Regions from separate parts of the Homo sapiens genome. Here region 2 is linked to region 1. Evidence: fine-mapped expression QTL. A gene starts in region 1. The other region holds a variant in brackets. All regions are shown on one strand. Distances are between the middles of the regions. Region 1 holds the start of TREH (trehalase). Region 2 holds the start of PHLDB1 (pleckstrin homology like domain family B member 1).

The links. PIP is the estimated chance that this variant, and not a neighbour inherited with it, causes the effect.
Region 2: its variant is fine-mapped to the expression of TREH in esophagus mucosa (GTEx, PIP 0.96).

The regions. Positions count from the first base shown.
Region 1 is chr11:118,675,496-118,683,817 of GRCh38, reverse strand. TREH (trehalase) reads left to right here and starts at 4,168. Exons shown (of 15, transcript NM_007180.3): 1 at 4,168-4,279. The coding sequence starts at 4,191. RefSeq lists enhancers at 3,617-4,276, 4,277-4,938.
Region 2 is chr11:118,606,858-118,615,179 of GRCh38, reverse strand. It overlaps PHLDB1 (pleckstrin homology like domain family B member 1), which reads right to left and starts at 7,565. Exons shown (of 23, transcript NM_001144758.3): 1 at 7,481-7,565; 2 at 1,284-1,364; 3 at 498-621. The coding sequence starts at 1,343. It overlaps LOC124902765 (a long non-coding RNA gene), which reads left to right and starts at 6,669. Exons shown (of 2, transcript XR_007062908.1): 1 at 6,669-7,057; 2 at 7,992-8,322. RefSeq lists silencers at 4,279-4,338, 6,854-6,923, 6,984-7,073 and enhancers at 5,046-5,719, 5,720-6,394, 6,432-6,726. The variant T/C (reference allele first, on the strand shown) is at 4,464.

The DNA of each region.
Region 1 (8,322 bases):
ATTTGAGTAGACTTGGTTAGTTGTAAACATATAATACTAAAAAAAGAACTGCTGGAGGCCGGGCGTGGTGGCTCATGCCGGTAATCCCAGAACTTTGGGAGGCTGAGGTGGGTGGATCATGAGGTCAGGAGTTCAAGAACAGCCTGGCCAATATGGTGAAACCCCATCTCTACTAAAAATACAAAAATTAGCCGGGTGTGGTGGTGGGCGCCTGTAGTCCCAGTTACTCAGGAGGCTGAGGCAGGAGAATCACTCGAATCCAGGAGGCGGAGGTTGCAGTGAGCCAAGATCATGCCATTGCACTCCAGCCTGGGTGATAGAGCAAGACTTCGTCTCAAAAAAAAAAAAAAAAAACACTACTGGCTGGGCATGGTGGCTCATACCTGTAATCCTAGCACTTTGAGAGGCCAAGGTGGGAGGATTGCTTGAGCCCAGGAGTTTGAGACCAGCCTGCGCAATATAATGAGGTGTTCCCCCAGAACAAAGCCAGTCTGCATAATGGGCAGAAGATCTGAATCACTATAAACCTTGCTTAAAAGAAGACATACAAGTCGCAAACAGGTATATGAAAAGGTGCGCTACATAACTGATCATCAGAGACATGCAAATCAGAACTACAATGAGATATTATCTCACTACGGTTAAAATGGCTTTTATCCAAAAGACAGGCAATAACAAATGCTGGTGAGGATGTGGAGAAAAGGAACCCTCATATACTGTTGGTGAGAATGTAAGTTAGTACAATCACTGTAGAGTCATGTGTTTTTTTAAAGAACATTGGCTGGGCACGTTGGCTCATGCCTGTAATCCTAGCACTTTGGGAGGCCAAGGCGGGTGGATCACCTGAGGCCAGGAGTTCGAGACCAGCCTGGCTAACACGGTGAAAACCCATCTCTACTAAAAATACAAAAAGTAGCTGGGTGTGGTGGTGGGCGCCTGTAATCCCAGCTATTCACGAGGCTGAGGCAGGAGAATCGCTTAAACCTAGGAGGCAGAGGTTGCAGTGAGCCAAGATCATGCCACTGCACTCCAGCCTGGGCAACACAGCGAGACTCCATCTCAAAAAAAAAAAAAAAGATGTTTAATTTTATGTGTCAACATGGCTAGGCAAAGGTATCCAGATAGTTGGTCAAGCATTATTCTAGATGTTTCTGTGAAGATATTTTTTAGATGAAAATAACATTTAAATTTGTAGACTTTGAGTAAAGCAGGTTACCCTCCCTAACTTGGATGGGCCTTATCCAATCAGTTGAAGACTTTAATTTGAAAAAGACTGACCTCCCCAGAAGAAGAAGGAATTCTCTCAGCATGCTGCCTTCAGACTTGAACTGCAGCTTCTTCCCTGTTTCTCCAGCCTGCCAGCCTACCCTAGAGATTTTGGACTTGCCAGCTACCTCTCAAACTCTCTCTCTCTACCCCCATCCCCCATATATGTATTGTTTCTGCCTAATACGGTCCAGGACCAGATGGCTTCATTGGTAAATTCTACCAAACATTTAAAGAATTAACAATCCTTCTCAAACACTTCCACAAATAGAAGAGGGGCATATTTCCTAACTCATGCTATGAGGCTAACATTACCCTGATATTAAAACCAGATAAAGACATCACAAGAGGGCTGGGCATGGTGGCTCACACTTGGGGAGAAACACTTTGGGAGGCCAAGGCGGGAGGATCACTTGAGGCCAGGAGTTCAAGACCAGCCTGGGCGACACAGTCAGATGTAGTCTCTACAAAAAAATTTAAAAATTACCCAGGCGTGGTGGCATGCACCTGTAGTCCTGGCTACTCAGAAGGTTGAGGCCAGATGACCACTTGAGCCCCAGGAAGTCGAGGTTGTGGTGAGCTGTGTTCATGCCACTGTATTCCAGCCTGCTGGGTGATGGAGCAAGACTATGTGTCCAAAAAAAAAAAAAAACAAAACAAAACAAGGAAAGAAAATTACAGTCAAATATGCTCTATACATATTGATGCAAAATTCCTCAAAAAAATACTCGCAAGCCAAAACCAACAGTTTATTAAAAGGATTAGACATCATGACCAAGTGAGATTTATCCAAAGAATGCAAGGGTGGTTGCACAGCATTGTGAATGTAATAAAAGGAAATTGAATTGTACACTTAAAAATTGTTGACCAGGCATGGTGGCTCACACCTGTAATCCCAATACATTGGGAGGATGAGGCAGGAGGATTGCTTGAGCTCAGGAGTTCCACACCAGCCTGGACAACATAGGGAGACCCAATCTCTAAAAAAAAAAAAATTATTTTTAATTTAAAAATTAGTTGGGCGTGGTGGCATGTGCCTGTGGTCCCAGCTGCTCAGGAGGCTGAGGTGGGAGAATCCCTTAAACCTGAGAGATCAAGGCTGCAGTGAGCTGTGATGGAGCCACTGCATGCCAGCCTGGGCAACAGAGCGAGACCCTGTCTCAAAAAACAAAGCAAACAAAAAAAACAATGCCAGCTGCCCACATTACTGGGTGGAGCTATCTGAACCTTTACTAGTTCAGAGTGGTGCCTGATTCATGAGTCATTTCTTTGCTTGAATAAATGGTTAAATTTAATTTGTCTAAGGTTTTTCTTTTTAATAGCAGTAAACACTGCTCAGGTGCCACAACTGACATCCTTAACTGCAAACCTAAGTCCTTCAGGAGAGGTCATGCCTATCATTAAACTCCATGTGCCTTGCCCACCCCCTGTCCCCTGTCCCTTCAGCTCACCTTCCATATGTTGAGGGGATGAGCCTCCTAAAGTAACCGAATCTGCTTTTTTTTTTTTTTTTTTTTTTTTGAGACAGAGACTTACTCTGTCGCCCAGGCTGGAGTGCAGTGGCATGATCTCGGCTCACTACAACCTCTGTCTCCCGAGTTCAAGCGATTCTCCCACCTCAGCCTCCTGAGGAGCTGGGATTACAGGTACCCGCCATCATGCCCAGCTAATTTTTGTATTTTTGTAGAGACGGGGTTTCACCATGTTGGCCAGGCTGGTCTTGAACTCCTGACCTCAGGTGATCCACCCGCCTCGGCCTCCCAAAGTGGTGGGATTACAGGCATGAGCCACTGCACCCAGCCTGAATCTGCTTCTTAAGCTCACAAACTTCTCTGCTGGTTCCACTTTGGGGAATTACAAGGAATTACATTCCTTGGCTTGGCAAAGACCATTTCCAGACTGGTGCCAACATGTTCCTCCAGTCTATCTCAAAACCCTTCCCTGCATGAACACCAAGTTCTCTGCAGCTAGGCTGAGGGGTTTGCTCTTCTCTTCACATGCTCTGCATACATTGTAGTGGTCTCCAGCCCATTTCCCTTGGCAAACTCCTATGCGGTCATCAAGACTCATTAGGACTGGCGCAGTGGCTCACGCCTGTAATCCCAGCACTTTGGGAGGCCAAGGCGAGCAGATCATGAGGTCAAGAGATTGAGACCATCCTGGCCAACACAGTGAAACCCCGTCTCTACTAAAAATACAAAAATTAGCTGGGCGTGGTGGCGGGCACCTGTAGTCCCAGCTATTCAGGATGCTGAGGCAGGAGAATTGCTTGAACCCGGGAGGCGGAGGTGGCAGTGAGCTGAGATCACGCCACTGCACTCCAGCCTAGCGACAGAGTGAGACTCAGTCTCAAAAAAAAAAAAAAAAAGACTCATTACAAATGACACACTATTGTGGGTCTCCCTTAGTCCTCCCCAGACAGAATGGTTCTACTGTCCTGTGCTTCCGCTGTATCTCTTGCAGATAACAGTGAGAGGCCCTGAATTTCACACCACACCAGGGACAGGATCTTGAGCCATTCCATTTGAAATGTTAAGGGAAATGGTAACTCTCTGAGGTTGGTGGTCTTGGGGCCACCCAAGGAACCTGGCATCCAGGTTACAGGTGTGTGGCCTCGACTGTGTCCCTGGCCTTTGGGTGCCCACTCCCCACCCCCACCACCATGCTCTGAGGGAAGGGCCTGAGCCATTGGCACCAGCTGAGACTGTGAAATAGAAGAGGCAAAGTAGAAGCAAGGGAGGTGGCCACTGTGCCCTGAGAGCAGGAGGGGCAAGCGGGCCACACACAGACCAAGCACACGTCCCCTCAGGTGGCCACGCCTCAAAGGCTGGACTTTGGCCGACTTGGACAGGCAGGTGAGCCAGGCTGTGCCCAGCAAGCCGAAGGTGCCTGGGCTTGCTCATTCAGTCACAGTCACAGCCACCATGCCAGGGAGGACCTGGGAGCTGTGCCTGCTACTGCTGCTGGGGCTGGGACTGGGGTCCCAGGAGGCCCTACCCCCACCCTGTGAGAGGTAGGGGTGTGGGGAAGGCAGCAGGGGAGGATGGCAATAAGAGGGAGGCTGGGATGAGATCTCAAGCTCTGGGGTCGGTACTTCAGAGGGAAAGGAAGAGATTATAAAGGAAGGAAAGAGTAGGGAAGAGAAGAAAATGAGAATTCCTATGTAGCAGGCTCTGTGCTGGGCACTGCACCTGCAGTCCGTTTTTTTTGTTGTTGTTGTTAGAGTCTTGCTCGGTCGTCCAGATGGAGTACAGTGGCACCATCTCCACTCACTGCAGCCTAGACCTCCCGGGTTCGAGAGATTCTCGTGCCTCAGCCTCCTGAGTAGCTGGAATCACAGGCATGCACCACCACGCCCAGCCTGTCATTGATTTTTACCAAAATTTTCCACCGTTGGAAGGGACATTAGGCTTGGCGACTGTGCTGGGAATACAAGCGTGAGCCACCGCCCCCTGTCGGGACCTGCAGTCCTGATACCAGACGCAGCTGCCAGAGCCTGGCCTGAGGTCCAAGAGCCTGCTGGCCAGAGCCCGCCCTCCCTTCCTCTCCTCCTCCAAGCTGCCCCTTGAACTGTGCAGGCCTCTTCTCAGGATTGTTCTAGCAAACTTTCTGCTCCAGCTTCCTAGTCTGGGTGTGAGAGGCAGCCTAAGGGCCTGAAGACAGCACTTGGGCTTGAGCCCTGACCCTCATATTCTCTCTGTGACCCAGGGCAGGTCAAGGCTCTTTCCTGAGCCTGAGTTTCCATCACCAGGGACAGAGATGAGTGACCCTGTCCTGTCTCCTGGACTCAGGCGATGTCCACCCTTCGTTCCACATGGATTTATGGAGCTGTGGCCACATCAGCCACTTTACCAGCTCCTGCAAGAACAATAATAATAGAAGAAAAACAGCTGGGCACGGTGGCTCATGCCTGTAATCCCAGCACTTTGGGAGGCCAAGGTGGGAGCTATCATCTGAGGTCAGGAGTTCGAGACCAGCCTGGCCAACATGGTGAAACCCCATCTCTATGAAAAATACAAAATTAGCCGGGCATGGTGGCGCACGCCTGTAATCCCAGCTACTCGGGAGGCTGAGGCAGGAGAGTCGCTTGAACTTGGGATGTGGAGGTTGCAGTGAGCCAAGATCATGCCATTGCACTCCAGTCGGGGCAACAAGAGCAAAACTCTATCTCAAATAATAATAATAATAATAATAGAAGCAAAACAGTAACAGAAGCACAGTTTGAAGTAGAGAGAAGTTAGGGCCCGCTGGTGTGGGTGAGCAGAGGGTGTGTTAGAGAGGATGGGGAGGGACGGTGTCTCTGAGGAGGTGATGTGTAAGCAGAATTGTGGCAGGAACCATTGCTGAGCTGATCTGGGAGAGGACAGTCCAGGCATGGAAAGGGCCATGCAGAGGCCCTGACGCACTGTTCAGGGATTGGGACGAAGGCCTGTGTGATTGGGGCAGAGTGGGAACAGGTCCGGGGAGAGCGGGGCTCCAGGCAACAAGGTTTGGGCTTGGGTTCCAGTGGTTAGACTAGAGACAGAGACAAGGGGTTCAATAGAGGGTGTGTGTTACAGGGAGAGTTGACAGTGCTTGCCCATGACAATTGTGGAATATAAAGGGGAAAAGTGTACCTGGGATAATTAATAGGTTTTGTCCTGAGCAATTGTAATGAGGACTTCAGAGAGGCTGGGTGGTCCAGTGCTTTGTCAAGCATTAGGCTGTTTGCCAAATGTAGGGGAAGATGACTTTACTGGTGTTCCCTAAGACCAACCTCAGGCCAGTGATTCACTAACACTTCCAAATGGTTATACCATGATTATGGTTTCATTTTTTTTCTTTTTTTGAGACAGAGTCTCGCTCTGTCGCCAGGTTGGAGTGCAGTGGTGCAATCTCGGCTCGCTGCAACCTCCACCTTCTGGGTTCAAGCGATTCTCCTGCCTCAGCCTCCCCAGTAGCTGGGACTACAGGCACCTGCCACCACGCCCAGCTAATTTTTGTATTTTTAGTAGAGACAGAGGTGTTGCCATGTTGGCAAGAATGGTCTCAATCTCTTGTCCTTGTGATCCGCCTGCCTCAGCCTCCCAAAGTGCTGGGATTACAGGCATGAACCACCGTGCCCAGCCTTGATTATGGTTTCTTACAGTGAAAAGATACATGTTAAAGCCATCAAAGGTGAAATATTCTAGGGCCAAGTCCAGGAGAAAATAATCTCAATCTTCCAGTTTTTCCTCTCCCAGTGGATTTATATGGACAGGACTTGATTTTTCCAGCAATAACATGTGACAGCACGCATGAAGTATTGCCAATCACAAAAGCTCACCTGAGTCTTGGTGTCCAGTGTTTTTATTGGAGGTCAGTGATGAAAGCGTGGACTACCTGTGTGGCTGACCTCAGTTACTCACTCTCCAGAGTTCAAACTGATACTGGGCGGCCAAAGGCCCCTGCCACAAATCACATTATTAGCATCAAATATCTGGCATGGCCCAAGGCCCCAGAAAAACAAAGACTTATCAGGCAGCATATTTTGGTAATTTAAATCTCATCTCTCAGGGCTGGTCACAGGCCAGAATTTTCTCTGAAATGTGCAGGGTTTGAACACAGCAGACCTGCTGAGTCAATCCTTTCATGTATAAGCCACTTCTTGTATAATGAGGAATTAGTTTCATTTTTGTCTTGGGTTCCTCCAAAGTAACCTCTAAGCTCCTTGGAATCTCCCAAGTGATAGGAATGTCTGTTATTAATAGTGGTCCCTGATTAGTGTTTTTTTGTTGTTGTTTTTTTCTTTCTTTTTTTTTTTGAGACAGCAATCTAGCTCTGTTGCCCAGGCTGGCAGTGCAGTGGTGAGCATTTTGGCTCAATGCAACCTCTGCCCCCAGGGTTCAAGTGATTCTCCTGCCTCAGCCTCCCAAGTAGCTGGGACTATAGGCACGCACCACCACGCCTGGCTAATTTTTGTATTTTTAGTAGAGACGGGGTTTCACCATGTTGGCCAGCTGGTCTTAAACTCCTGACCTCAAGCAATCCACCCACCTTGGCCTCCCAAAGTGCTGGGATTACAGGCATGAGTCACTGCACCTGGCCTGATTGCTTTTTGAGACAGGGTCTCACTCTGTCACCCAGGCTGGAGTGCAGTGGTGCAGTCATGGCTCACTGCAGCCTCAATCTCTCTGGGCTTAGGTGATCCTCCCACCTTGGCCTCCTGAATAGCTAGGACTAGGTGTGTGCCACCATGCCTGGCTAATTTTTGTATTTTTTGTAGAGATGGGGTTTTGCCATGTTTCCCAGGCTCTTGGTAGCTTTTGTTAATGAGGTGACTTATGGTGGGTCCCTAGACAGCTTCTGCTAACAAGACGACTCCACATGAAGGCAGGCCGTGCCAGAAAGGCCAAGCATGTGTGTAGAGGGTTGGGGTTTTGGTCCACATGATATCAGCCCAACTTCTCAACCTTCAGGGAGGAGAAGGGGCTGGAGATGGAGTTCAATTACATGATCAATGATTCAATCAATCATGCGTATGTCATGAAACCCCAATAAAAACTCTGGACTTCAAAGTCCTGGTAAGTAGGCTGGGCACAGTGGCTCATGCCTGTAATCCCAACACTTTGGGAGGCCGAGGTGGATGGATCACTTGAGGCCAGGCATTTGAGAGCAGCCTGGCCAACATGGTGAAACCCTGTCTCTACCAAAAATGCCAAAAATTAGCAGGGTGTGGTGGTGCATGCCTGTAATCCCAGCTATTGAGGAGGCTAAGACGTGAGAATCATTGACCTGGGAGGTGGAGGTTGCAGTGAGTTGAGATTGCACCACTGCACTCCAGCCTAGGTGACAGAGTGAGACCCTGTCTCAACAAACAAACAAATAAAACAAATAAATACCAAGTCCTGGTTGGTGAACACATTGATGAGCCAGGAGGGGAAACGTCCTGGTTCCATGGGGAAAGGACACAGAAGCTCTACATTCAGGGCCCCCCTAGACCTTGCCCCATGCACCCCTTCATTTGGCTGATCCTGGCTTGTATTCTTATAATAAAACTATAGCCCTAAGCATAACCGTAAGCTTTTCTGAGTCCTG
Region 2 (8,322 bases), 69 kb after region 1:
TCTGTTGCCCAGGCTGGAGTGCAGTGGCACGATCTCGGCTCACTGCAACCTCTGTCTCCTGGGTTCAAGCGATTCTTCTGCCTCAGCCTCCTGAGTAGCTGGGACTACAGGCCCGTGCCACCACGCCTGGCTAATTTTTGTATTTGTAGTGGAGATGGGGTTTCACCATATTGGCCAGGCTGGTCTAGAACTCCTGACCTCGTGATCCGCCTGCCTCAGCCTCCCAAAGTGCTGGGATAACAGGCGTGAGCCACCACACCTGGCCTCTCCTCCTTGTTTCTAAGCTGATCTTTAAGCCCAGTCGTGGAACCAGATCATCTACCAAGGAAGGCAGGCAGTCTGGGGAGGCAGAGACAAGGGAAGCAAGCTGGTGGTGTGGGGAGGCGAGCACCAGCAGACAGTAGAAGGGCCCCAACACATGCAGGAGGTGGGCCTCCAGGGCAGGAATGCCTATAAGGATAGAGGGGTGGTGAGTGAGATGCCCTGTTCACACTTACCTTCCTCCAGCGGCAGGAGGGTGATGGCTGTGCTGAGTCGCCCACTGCCCAGGCTCACCAGGTGGGGTTTGTCCGTTTGCACTTTCAGCCCTTTGCCTGTCTCGATCAGGTCCAAGGGTCCTTTCTGTAGGTAGTACGGGTGGAGGACAAGCATCATTAGATTCAGCACCTTACCACCCTAAACCAGTCACACCAGCACTCTCTCCAGCCCTCGCCCCTCTCCGAAGGGCTCTGAGGGTGCTGAAAGGCTTAGCACAAAATCTTACACAGAGCATGATTCCACTAAATTGTAATTAGATCTGAATCTAGGCCACTAACTCATCCCACTGGATTTATCGCAAGTCTTGGCTTAACTGTGCCTTTTGTCTATTAAAACAGAAGCAAGGAGAAAGGGGTGGGGGGTGGGGGTGGCATTGGATAAGCAGCAGGGGTACTGTAGAGGAAGGCCAATCAAGCTCCCTGCAGACTTGTCCATGGCTATCCACGTGGCCATTGCTTGCCCCTGCTAAGCTCAAGTACAGGGAAGATAGAGGCATGGATCAAGGAGAGTGATACAGCCCAGGGTCAATCTGTAAACTGCTTTCGGACTTTCGATGGGTAGTTTCTGGGTGAACCAATTAACCTGATTCAGATAAAGACTGAGCTGTTAATAGGCTTGGGACCTGGGGAAGGGCAGAGAGGAACAGAATTGCTCCTTTCATCCTTGGGCTGGGACCACAAGGGGGTAGAAGAGCTGATCCCATCCCTATTATATCTCTCTTGCCTCACAGCCCTGATCCCACTCACCTGCACCATGGTCTGGGTCTGGCATCCAGGGCCTATTTGGTTCCTATTGAGAGCGTCCATGGTCCTAAGGCTCCAGAGCTCCTAGGGACACAGCAGAAAGGTGGTGAGTGGGGAGGCCAGGGCAGGAGAGGGAAAGAAGTAGGTTCTGTGGCAGGGTTCTCAGGGCAGAGGTGTCACCAGTCACCATCATTCCCCAAATGCTCATGCTGAAGGGAAATAGAGGCAGCTAAAGAGCTTGGGTGGGAGTTGTCTGGGAGCAGTGCCAAGTCTCCAGCCAGCCACAGCATGGATACCAGTCCTGCCCCCTGCCACTGTAAGCACAAACAGTCCCATAGGGCCCAATCTATACTTCTGTGCTTTCTTGCCCTATGCTACTCAGAACCCGGGTTTTGACAGCTGAAGACCCTTGGCCCTGTGGAGCCTTAAGCAGGGTGGGGAAAATCTACCTTAGTGGGAGAAGCAGCAAGGAAGCCCCTCCAAGGACACTGGTAGCCAGAGGGCCCCCAGGTAGGTGGCAGGGCTAAAACAGGAGCTCCCTCCTGCAACCTTTCATTCTCCTCTTCACCATTTGTCTCTTTTCCCAGGGCTTTAGTAGGATGTTTTCTTAAAGGAGACACAAAAGAAAAACTCAGCCATTCCTGCTATCTCCAGATGTCTCAACTCCTACACCTTTTCTTCCCCAGAAAGCAACCTCAACCCAACACAATCAGCTAAAAAAATTTTTTTTAATTAAAAACAAAAAACTTTAGTGATAACTAATACTGGGAATATTGGGCTCAACTCTTGGGTTCTTAATTGGCTAGGTGCTATAGGAAGCTTAAACCATTAGAACCAGGAGTAAGACAGATTCCAGAGCCAGAACTTGAATACTCCCCACCACCACCCCACTGCCCCTCACCCACCATGCATCCCTCTCTCCCTGGCTCATGTTTTTGGTATCTGAGATGTGAGGACCTTTGTGTACTAATGTATGCCCCCATGCCCATCCCTTGGCCAACTAGCTAAGCTGAGAAACTTCCCACTTGCTGCTGAAATGTTACTGGGGAAAGCTAAGAGTGTGGCTGAGGGGTAAGGAGGCAGACCCAGGGAAACAGGGTTTCCTTCCACTCTCTCTTCAAGCCATCTACCAGGGGACTTGGAAAGGAAGTAGGGGCAGCAGCCCGCATTCCAAGGAGTGTCTGACCCTGGCAGTGGGTCCCGAGGACCTTAGCTATGGTGTTACTAAATTTACCCTCCCAGCTTCCACCCTTCCGGACCTGGACTGCATCATCTCCGTCACCATTTCCACCCAAGCTGGCGGAAGAGAGGCCGGAACCCAGGCTGGGGCCCACCCCAAGACTGCCAGGGAAGAGGGGAGGGAAAACGCCATTAACCTATGCAAAGCCCCAAGCTGGCCTGGCACCTCCCCAGAATTCCTGGCCATGGAGAAGAATTTCCAAGGACAAAGATTGCTGTACTGCTTCCTTAGACTCAGGGAAATCCCTCAGCATTTTCTGAGGGAGGAGGGGCAAGAGAGTGGGTTGGGAATGGGGAGTTTATGTAAAAAAGGGGTTAAGAAAAACAAAATAATAAATAATGGTGAAGGAGAAACATCATCCTTTGGTAGAAAGAACTTTAGACTGGGATATATAAAGCCTTAAATTCTACCCTGACTTTATTTATTTATTAGCTATAAGATCCTAGACAAGTTATTTAACTTCTCTGATTATCAAGTTATTCTTCTATAAAACTAGAGTAATGGAAAAAAATAAAAAAGACTGTCTGGATCAGTGCTTGCCTGGGGCTAGGGGTGGAATGAGGAGTGACTGTAAAAGGGCACAAGTTTGGTGGGGGTGGGGTGGGGGGAATGTTTTCAAATTAAATTGTGATGATTGCATGGCTCTGTAAATATACTAAAAATCTTTTAATTGCATACTTAAATTGGGTGGATGTTATAGTATATAAATTATACCTCAATAAAGCTGTCAGTTTTTTAAAAAGGACTGTCTGAAATTCAGGTATTATATTAAATGGCATTCTGTGAAAGCAAAGCACTTAATGCCATTTATTATTATTATTATTATTTTTTTTTTTTTTTTGAGACGGAGTTTCACTCTTGTTGCCCAGGCTGGAGTGCAGCGGTGCTATCTCGGCTTACCGCAACCTCCACCTCCCGGGTTCAAGCGATTCTCCTGCCACCAAGCCCAGCTAATTTTGTATTTTTAGTAGAGACGGGGTTTCTCCATGTTGGTCAGGCTGGTCTCGAACTCCCGACCTCAGGTGATCCGCCCGCCTCGACCTCCCGAAGTGCTGGGATTACAGGCGTGAGCCACCGCGCCTGGCCCCGTTTATTATTATGAGCTGTGTGACCTGGAGCAAGGCAGTTCACCTGTCTGGGCGTTAGTTTATTTATCTGTCATATTGGAGTATTGGTCACTATCGCCGTGTGGGGCAGCTGTGGTGTGCTCATTTATTTACACCCAAGAACTTCAAGTGGAGATAAAGATTGTAAAGGAGTAAGGCCGATGGAGAACAAGAGTGATTAGAGGAGAGAAGAGAATAAGGAGGCGAAAGTAAAGGGAGAGATAAGGAGAGAGGTGTGGGGAGAAGATAAGAAAAGATGGAGAGATTGGGAGGTGCGAGGCTGTGGCCCCAGCACAGTAACCTGATCCAAGAGAAGTGGAAAGAGACACCAGGCCAACCTGCCCTGCACTCAGGCGGTGCTTTCCCAAAGGGCGATCGCCGCGGCCGAGAGCGGCCACCTGGGGGCGCCCTCACCTTGACTCCCGCTCTGGCCCCGGCGGCTGAGTGGCGCTACGCGAGGGACGTCCCTCACCTGCGGCCCCGCTTCCATCTGGCCCGCGGCTCCCCAGCAACCCGGCTGTCATTACCCGCCCGCCCGGCCCCGCGGCCAAAAAAAGACCCCTGCGGTGCGCGTCCGGCCCTGGGTGCCCTCCCGCACGCTGGGTACAGACGCCCCAGTGCCGCCCCGGCAGCCGAGTGGCGGAGGCCCAGGTGTCTGGATTTGACGAGCGACAGGCAAGGCCCTCTGTGCGCAAGGCCGGGGCGCCGGCAGGTGACCCCGGCCCGGGCCCTCGGCCTCCTCCCCCGCGGGAATGCGCCGACACCCCAGCCACGCGGGACACCAGTCTGAAGCCCTCTCCGCCGAGTGGAGCACCCAGAGTGAACTCTCGGGGGTCT[T/C]GGCCCCCGCCTGAAGGAGGCCAAGGAAGGGCCGACTGGCTCCAGCACCAACGGGCACTGACACAGCTCCCGGGCTCCCACGGAGTCCCAGGACGAGAGGTCCAAAGCCAGCCCCAGAGCACCAGACCCGGCCCTTCGCGGGGCCACTGCTCGGGCGCTCCCCGGAGCCCCGCGGGTCGCCCGGCCTCACCTGTGTCCCTGGGGGTCGGCCTCGGCCTCGGCCCAAGCGGTGCATGGCTGTGGCCAGAGGCCCGCCAGGCCGAGCTGGGGTCCTCTCGGCCGCCGCCTTCGCCCTCCAGGCGCACATCCGCCCTCGAGAAAGGGCCGCCGTCAGAGGAAGGAGTCAGGAAGGGAAGGAAACTGAGGCGGGGAGCCCAGCGGGGGACGCCCGAGTGGGGAGGGGGACGAGAGAACTTAAGGATGAGAAAAACCTGACAGAGATGAATGGGGGTGTGCAGAGGGACGGGGCGGGGAAGGGGAGCCACCGGGATGTGAAGGGGAAAATGAAAGGCAGACTAAGAGATGGGAAAAAATGCAAGCTGGGGAGGGGAAGACCGAGGGCAGAGGATGCGGGGAGACTGAAGAACACAGAGGTGGAGGGGTCGGGGGAAGAAAGGACAGGCGGGTCCTCAAGTGGAGGCGACGACAGACGGGAACACTGGGGATGCGCGAGGGCAGCGGAGGGGAGGCTGACGGGCGGGGAGATGGGGCGAAGGAGAGGGAGGCTGGGGCCCACCGGGACCCCAAAGGCGGAAGAGAGGAGAGATGGGCGGCCCGAGGAGAGGGGGAGCCGGGAGAGCGCGGATGGAGCGAGGGCTGTTGCTTGGGTGTCCGGTGGTGGAAAGGTGCCTCTCCGCGGTCCGCAGGGCCGAGGGAGGGAGGTTTCCGCAAGGTAGCGGCCCCTTGCACCCCTCGGCCTGCTCCTGCCCAGGCTGCCCGCGTGGGACAAGGCCGCAGTGTTGGGCGCCTGCCGCTGCCGCCTGCCCGCCCGCCCCTGACAAGCGGCCTTTCTTTGGCGGGGCAGAGAGAAGGAGCCGCTTGTTTGCGCGGCCGGGAAACGGGGCGGCCCCCACAGACACCGCCCGTTCCGAGCCTGGCAGCTGCGGGAAGGGCGGCTGAATGTGTGTGAGGGGCCGCGTGTGTGAGCTGGGGCTGCGGTGTGAGCTGGGCTGTGTGTGTGACTGGGGCTGCATGTGTGAGGGGGCTGCATGTGTGAGCTGGGCTGCGTGTGTGAGCTGGGCTGTGTGTGTGGCTGGGGCTGTGTGACGGGCTGCGTGTGTGAGCTGGAGTGTATGTGTGAGCTGGGCTGCGTGTGTCAGCTGGGCTGTGTATTGAGCTGAGCTGTGTGTGTGATAGGCTGTGTGTGTGATGGGCTGTGTGTGTGAGCTGGGCTGTGTGTGTAAGCTGGGCTGTGTGTGTAACTGGGGCTGTGTGTGTGAGCTGGGCTGTGTATTGAGCTGAGCTGTGTGTGTGACGGGCTGCGTGTGTGAGCTGGGCTGTGTGTGTATAACTGGGGCTGTGTGTGTGAGCTGGGCTGTGTGTGTGACGGGCTGCTTGTGTGAGCTGGGCTGTGTGTGTGAGCTGGGCTGTGTGTGTGACGGGCTGCTTGCATGAGCTGGGCTGTGTAACTGGGGCAGTGTGTGTGAGCTGGGCTTCGTGTGTGAGCTGGGGCCTCGTGTTTGACTGGGGTGTGTGTGTGAGAGCTGGGGCTGCGTGTGTGAGCTGGGCTTCGTGTGTGAGCTGGGGCCTCATGTGTGACGGGTACGTGTGTGAGCTGGGTTGTGTGTGTGACTGGGGTGCGTGTGTGAGGTAGGCTGTGTGACTGGGGTGCATGTGTGAGCTGGGGCGCGTGTAAGCGGGGCTGCGGGTGTGAGGGGCTGCGTGAGCGCGGGGCGCTTTCCTGTGAGGCGTAAGGCATGGAGTGCGTGGGAAGGCCTCGGCGTGTGGGCGGGTCCGGGTGTGTCTGGGTGGCGTGACGCAGGGACGTAGGTGTGCGAAGTGTCGCGGAGGCGTGCGTGTGTGCCGCGTGGGAGCCCGGCGTGGTGGGGCGCCTGCGTTTGCGTTTGACGGCTGGGGGGTGAGCCCGCCGCCCGATGAGTCAGCCTCGGGAGGCTCCAGGACCGCTGAGCTAACGGCCCAGAATGCAGCCCCGCCCCAGAGCCGTGGGTCCCCGGCAGGGCTGTGCGGTCGCCCGGCCAAGTCCCCACTCGAGCCTGCCTCGGCGGAAGCGCTAGCGGGCGACTCGGCCACCCTGCGCCGGCGCCCCTACCCAGCCGCCCGCCCGCACTTCCCTATCCCGGGGGAGCCCGGATGACTTGGGTCAGCCTCCGCTCGGGGAACTCCGCTAGGGATTCCAATAGGGACCGCGCGGGCGTGGCAAGGCGCCCCAGGCGGCCTCCCCGGCCCCCGAGGACGTGGGGCCTTGGGGAGTGCCTGGGAGGCCCCAGGCGGGCTTCCCATCTCCTGGACACCCCCAGGCAGCCCTCCTAGACGCTCAAGACTCTGAGCCGGACTCCGAATCCCTTCCTGGTCCATCAAGGCGGCCGGCCTGGGGACAGGCGGGGAGACGTCACAGGAGATACCCCCGCCCCAAGGTCCTGCTGTGGGCGGAGAGGGGGAGGTGTGGGGCGCTGGAGGACGAAAACCCGCGCGCGCGCTCGCCGCCCGATACCCCGCGAGTGTCCGCCCGGCCGCCTGGGTGCCGGCGGGAGAGTCTGGATAGGGCCAGGATCAGAGTTTCTCCAAGGGGGGGAGAGCGTCACGGCCCCCTCTGGCGGTGGCGTTGGCAGCGGCCGAGGAAGGCAAAAGCAAGAGGCTCACAGGAAAACTCCCCATAACGCTCCTTTCGCCCCCACGCACTCACCTGGGGTGCCCTCTCTCCCCCACGGGTTTCTGCCGAGCTCCCTAGCCTAGAGCTGATCTCAGGGCTCTCGCCAGGCCCCGGGGACTTCCCCTTATCCAGTCCTAGCACCGCAGCGAATGGGACCCGCAAGTGTAGTGGGACGGGGCGCTCTTACCTAGAGGTGGGGGGGGGGCAGGGAGACACTGGTCCCTTAGCCTGGCTCGGCTCGGTCGCGGTGGCCTCAGGCTTAGGAGGACACCGTTGCTTTTCCCCGGGAGCTCGCTAAGTAGGAGGAGAGCGAGCCTGTCCCGCCCCCCTCCCGCCAGTCCCCGCCCCCGTCCCCCGTCCCGTCCGCCTGGCCAGCCAAAGAAGACGCCCTTGTGGGGCTGGAGCCCAAGGTCCCCCCACCCACCCTTTCCCACAGCAGCACCTCCCCCAGCCTGCACAGCGCCCGCTTTGTTCATCTTTGCAGCTGGGCTCTCCACCATCACCACCACCACCACCACCACCACCACCACCACCACCACCACCACCACCACCACCACACATCCCCCTCTCCTCCCACCCTGCCCTCCCGACTCTCCTAGACCACCCTCCACTCCCAGGCTTTAACACGCTTTTGAGAGGGTGTTTTTGACAATCCGTTCTCCCTCCCCCAAACTCTCCCCTCTTTCTTTTTGCCTTAGATGCCTGAAACCTCCACGGGCTCCCACTGAACCTCCCAAATCGAAGCCCCTACAACATGCTCTCAACATCTCCAGAACATCTACTGAGGGTACCCAGGTCTTCTCCCTGTCACCTCCTCCCCTCGCCCTATTCCAAGCCCCACCATGAAGAGCTGTAAATGACATTGATAGCCACGCACATCAGGCTTCACAGACTTTCTTAAGGATAGGCACAAGAAGACTCGTTAAAGTGTCATGCAAACTCCAAAGCACAGGAAAACCGAATGGAATTATCATCTTGCCCCCATGGAGCTCCACACCCCTCCACCCCGACAGACTTGCTGGATTACAG